Regions from separate parts of the Homo sapiens genome. Here region 2 is linked to region 1. The links come from fine-mapping of genetic effects on gene expression. A gene starts in region 1. The other region holds a variant in brackets. All regions are shown on one strand. Distances are from middle to middle.

What was found.
Region 2: its variant is fine-mapped to the expression of LRRK2 in whole blood (INTERVAL, PIP above 0.99).

What each region holds. Positions count from the first base shown.
Region 1 is chr12:40,223,179-40,226,100 of GRCh38, reverse strand. LRRK2 (leucine rich repeat kinase 2) reads right to left here and starts at 1,104. Exons shown (of 51, transcript NM_198578.4): 1 at 819-1,104; 2 at 461-546. The coding sequence starts at 969. It overlaps LRRK2-DT (LRRK2 divergent transcript), which reads left to right and starts at 2,279. Exons shown (of 9, transcript NR_186757.1): 1 at 2,279-2,442. It overlaps LINC01779 (long intergenic non-protein coding RNA 1779), which reads left to right and starts at 1,198. Exons shown (of 1, transcript NR_186584.1): 1 at 1,198-2,922. RefSeq lists a silencer at 979-1,338.
Region 2 is chr12:40,367,331-40,370,252 of GRCh38, reverse strand. LRRK2 (leucine rich repeat kinase 2) reads right to left here. Exons shown (of 51, transcript NM_198578.4): 51 at 968-2,609. The coding sequence ends at 2,488. The region is part of intron 5 of LOC105369736 (a long non-coding RNA gene); the gene reads left to right. Among named protein-coding and RNA genes, the nearest start is that of MUC19, 25 kb to the left of the region's middle. The variant G/AAAG (reference allele first, on the strand shown) is at 1,563.

The DNA.
Region 1 (2,922 bases):
TTAAAAAGTGCTGAACTCTACAAGAGTTTGCTAGTGACAAAGTTGCATTTTATCACTATTAATTATTCCCCTTTTCCAAACTATTCATAATCTTCTCATCTAGGACATGCTCTGTATTGGGAAGATACTTGGAATAGTCAAGTCTAAACACTAATGAATTCATCTTGCCAATAACGAGACTAAAACCGAACCCATTTTTATCCTCCTTCTACCACCATCCATACTGTTGGTTTTATAAAGTTACTTCTTAAAGACACTCAGGGAACACATACTGGGGCTCTTCATCCCGTTTACATTGCGTAATGATTTAACAATATTCCCATCTTAAAATCACAGTCAGAGGTTCCTCAAGCCAAATTTTGGGAATAACCAAGAACTCTCGGCTATATTAACATTGCCAGTAAAACGTCTCCTTCCAAACAGAAGGGAGAATGAGTTGAAGTGAAAACAATGCCTTTACCTGCTGCACACTCGCGACTCTCATATAGGAGTCCAAGACGATCAACAGAGGCACATGGATATTTTTGCCTTGAAATAACTTGGAGGCTGGAAAACAAGTGGGTGGGGAAAAGAAGCAAAGTCACAATCCACAGCACCCCCTCTCCTTTTTAGTCTGAAACGGGGAGAAAAGTCAAAAAGGTGAAGACCTTCCTGAAATTCTCAGCTGCTTTCTGCCCTAAGGAAAGGATATGGGAGTTTGCGGCTCCTTAAGAGTCCGGGTTTGAGCAGGGTCAAGGGGAGGAGGACAAAATTTGCAAATGTAAGGAGGGGGAGAAAGTTTGCAAAAATAAAAGCACAGTTTATTTTCAAGTGATTACCGCGCTCGGAGTACGTGAACACCAGCAGATCCTCCAGGATTTGGACCAGCGTTTCTATCTGTTTTCCTTCCTGGACATTGTTCAGCCTGACTATCAACTTCTTCAGAGTTTCCTCGTCCTCTTCGCACCCCTGACAGCTGCCACTAGCCATGGTGGCACCTGCTTCCAACCCGCCGCCCTCCCAGCATGAACGTCCGCTGCTCAGGGAACCGGCAGGGGCGCCGGCCACAGCTCCCCGGGGGCGAGCTCAGCTCACCGCCCGCAGCCAGCGCTCCCCGCGGGCCCCATCGGCGCCCACGCCCGCCTGTTTATGAGGAAGGAGGCAGCTCCCCGCCCCGCGTTGCCCTCCCTCTCCGGAGCCCTCCTGCTCGGCTTCCTCCTCCCCCACTCAGGCCCCAAAAACGAGCTCAGGGGCCTGCCAGAGGCTCCGCCGAGGCGACGGGCCGCGCAGAACTCTGGCGGCGGCCGTGGGGCTGCTGGAGCCGGGCCTGGCTGGGATGACCGTGACCGTGGCCCCCACGCACGCCTAGACCGGACCCCGGGCGGACGCCGCCTCCTGGGACCAGATTCCACCGCAGCGGCGGCGCGGCCGGGAGTCGCGCGGGAAGAAACTGACTCAGCGGACTCCGCTGAGTCCACAGGCCCGGAGCCCCGCAGCGGAGGCGCGCAGTGCGCAGCCCGGCCGGCCACCCTCCGCGACCCGCCAGCCGGGGATCCTGCGGCCCCACGGAAGGTCTGGGAACTGGGAGCAGGAAAAATGAAAGCCGCCTATCTCCAGATCTAAGAATAGAAATCAGGGCGCTGGGAAAAGAGGACACCGCCCAGATGGCCCCTTTTAGGAATACATTGTCTTTAGAGTTCCACCTATAGGGAGATGAGCAATTTTCCCCCAAAGGATGGAAAGAGGGGTTAGCCATCAAAACTGCCCCCGCTACTCTTTTTTATGATTTTTTGTGACTGTTAGTGGGAGAGGAAATAAACATTGTTTCCCTGTGAGTTATCTGAAGCTCTGGTCACCAAAAGGCCACTAAATTAACTTTTGGAAATTTGAGTTGCACTAGGCAGGATCCTGATACTTGGGACACCCGAAAAGTAATCAGCTCTCAGAGCTATTAGAGCTGAGACAAAGGACAGGGTACATGAAATGAAAGGTGAAAAGTTGAGAGAAGCAAACCTAAATACTCTTCTCTTGGTATTCAGAAATACTTATGAGTATGGGTGTCTATAACCCCAAAGTTTTTTGGTTTTGTCTTTTGATTGTTTGTTTGTTTGTTCTGTTAAGTACCTAAGTAATGTGTTTTTAGGAAAAGAAACCTAGCAAGAACATTGTAGACAAGGCTAGGCAAAGATGATCTATCCTTCAGGTGATGTGTCTGTCCTCAAGATCACTTACAAAGAAGAGGATTGGACTGGAAGTTACTACTTCACAATTTTAGTTTTGTTTTCACATCTGTTACTTCAATCCTGATGACAATTCTGAAATGGATACAACTACTACTATGTATCCTTCTTTCACTAGTGAGGAAATTGAGATTTGGAATTGAGAAGTGAAGAGCTTTGCTGGAGTCACACAGGTGGGAAGTTGAGAGCCAGGACTTCAACCCAGCAAATCTCCTAACTCCAGGTAGAAGGTTCTTCATGCTCTACCACTTTAATAAGAATGCTCTAGACTTTGTTAATACATTAGATTAGTAAGATAGCAAACTCCTACTCAACCTGGATATTGGGTCTATGTCTTGTTGTTATAGAGTCTTTAACTTTTACAGAGACATGCTAAAATATTTATAGTTGAAATGGTTAGGATTTCTTTCAAAGTCATCCAGTGGTGGAGGAAAAGATGAAATGTGTGGAGATAGAGATAACGATAACAACTTTTGAATTGATAATTGTTGAAGATAATATGAGATGGGTTCATGTGGTCTGTTCTACTATTGTATCTATATAAAATTTTCCATAATTTAACAAAAAACTCCCAATCTTACAATATTTATCAGACCTACAGTGTATTATTTTCTAAGTTGTTTCTAAACTTGTTTCCATTTCTGATGACTTAATCAATGTCTCAAACATTTCTAGGCATTCTCCATCTCATGCATTCCTTCTG
Region 2 (2,922 bases), 140 kb before region 1:
AGGTGCCTCCCTGTCTTTTGCTTGAAATCAGGGTGATAGGATCACTCCAAATGCCTTGACAAATTAGAAAGAACCACGTACGTAGGTGCCTTTAAGCAGCCAGATTCTGAATTGTTATTAGAAACAATGACACCCTGGATGAGAAACTGGCTAGCATGGAGAATGAGGATGTCAGTTTCTCCCGAGTTGACATAGTTTACTATTTTACTGAATTGCTGATAAGCCTCCATGAAAAACATTCAATTTACCAGGTTAGGTGTTCAGCTACCCAAAGTGATGGATAAAGAAGCAAAGTCCCAATGGTTTTGAATTTTATCTCCCCTCAATATTAGAACATTTGCATCCTTACATTTAACTTAGGAAAATTGACAATCTTTTTTTGGTAATTCTGCTATGTTTCATCAATATATTTCACTGCCTTGATGAAAAATAAGTTGCGTTTTAGTTGAAATAGTTCACACATAATCGATAGAGTACCTACCAGAATTAGAGTCAAAGAGGCTCCCTTTTCTTAATTCAAAATTTTCCCAAAAGAATATTTTGTTACGATAATATGCTTGTATTTTGATCATAATTAGCAAGTTATTTTAGGCTTCTAATCAGAAAACAGTTGAAGTGACTGTGCCTTTTTTTTGTATATGTCATTTGCTCTAAAGTCTTATATTTTGTTTCAGTACTCAAGAGCAAACAAGTTTACTTACAAAAACTTTTTAAGAGAACTTGAAAATAGAATGTATCATGCCCATCAGATTTTGTCCTGGGATCCTGGCAACTATATGTATTATAGAAAATTAAATTTAAATATTCCATAAGTTATCAAGGAAAAAACTTTAGTTGCACTTTCTTATTGTGGAATGTCCCATATACAAATTAATACAAAGTTTCCTATGAGATGGATAACAGACCTATATGTGAAAAGCAAAACACTATCACAAAGTTTAAAAATTCATAAACATGCTTAAAAGCATTTAAAGTTTTTAAAAAACCTTTATTATTCCATTTAAATATGGTATTCATTTTTTTAATTTGTCTTTGGTAAAAAAAATTGCAAATACAAAGTAACAATGAAAGAGATAACACTGGAACAAAGAGCTCTATTATATATGATTTTTTTGTTAATTACATAACAAGTTAAAGCATAGCTTCCTTTAAAATACAGAAAATCTTTCATCTTTAAGAATTTGATTACCCTTAATATAAATAAATTTAAAGTTTTCACATAGTAAAATGCCATAAGTTCTGAGAATATTAAATGTACTAGTTGTCCTATCACAGGGAATTATCTGAAATAATGAATACTGGTCAGGGCCAAAGAATTTACCGAAAGTACTTTTCCTAAAGCAGAAATGACCTCAAATTATTACATAGGTATTTGGCCCTGATACTCCTATTGTGGTAAGCTATGTAAACAATTTAAGTATAATTTGGAAGCCTAGGGTGGCAGATATTTTTATCCATCATAACTAAAGCTCCTTTCTCCTTCAGCAACTGAAAAGTGTTAGATATTTATCCTCATGGTCTTGGTAGGAGCTGTGGAATTCTATAATTCTGAAAAAAAAAAA[G/AAAG]GTTTCTATCTGAATGATGTAGGATCTGCAGCATCACAAATTTAGGGAAAAGATGAATATAAGCATTAGAATGAAGCAGATTAGAAAACAAGTAGCTAGTGGTATGAATAAAAAAATAAAAATATCACTTGAAGGACTGAACACTGTATTTACACTAATTATACAAAATTCAGGGTATCCACATTCAAACATAGAGTTGAAAAACAACTCTATTATGTCTAGGAAAGACACAGAGAGTTTCTGTGACAAAGAGAGTTTCTGTGTCTTTCCTAGATATGAGGACTTTGACAGTATGTCATGTTTTTTCATTAGTACTTTTAATGGAGTTTTCTTTTGAATTGAGTGAAGTTGTGTAAGATGCACTGTTTGCAACAGCAACAAAGAGAATTCACATACCAACAAAGGACTTTATTAGTGCAAATTCATTTGAATATTTACAAGCATATATGATAGTGCATTTCGATGCAATCTAAGAAGGAATACATTACATGGGAAACTGTCTTAATATTTTCATTATACCGTGCAGATTTCTAGAAAAATCGACAAGCAATAGTCCTGTCTTAAGCACAGAATTTAAAATAAAGTTTACCTCCATTACAGACAAGAAAACAAAAAATTATCGGCCTTATAAATTTTAGTATGAGTACTTAAATTAGGTACTTCACAGATTTATTTTCATTAATTAATGAACGAAAGTAACTGGTATTTATAAGAAATATAACATTGTGTTTTAAATAGTTCTTTAAAATACACATTTACTGGTAAGTATTTTTACATATATTTAAATTAAAAATAATAACATTCCTTCATACACACGAGCTATTTCAAAAAATGTGAGTACCCTTTCCATGTGAACATTTTTAAAATAAATATTTACAAGAGGAGAGAATAATTTTCCTATCCAAAGACAATTCCTATTTCTCTCTTACTCAACAGATGTTCGTCTCATTTTTTCAGCTAATTCTTTTCTCACTTCAATGTGTTTTTCTAAATTTTGCACTTCATGTGGAAGATTGATGTCCCAAACGGTCAAGCAAGATTGTATCTCTAGAAAAAGAAAAAAATGAAATCATGTTTCAAAGATCCATCATAAAACATTCTTATTTTATTTCAGTTTGGCTCATGTATTTTTAGTTGACTTAGATAAATGTAAATATAAACACAGCTATAACTAATGTACTAAATTATTATTTATAAAAAACTATACTTGGAAAAGTTTTATAATACATTATAGAAACTATTAAATTTCAAATAGAGTATCAACATTTAATAAATTAACATTTCATATTCTAAAAGAAATAAAAGCTTTTTCAAACACTGTTCAAAATTAGACATTATGTAGATATAGATAAGTTGTAAA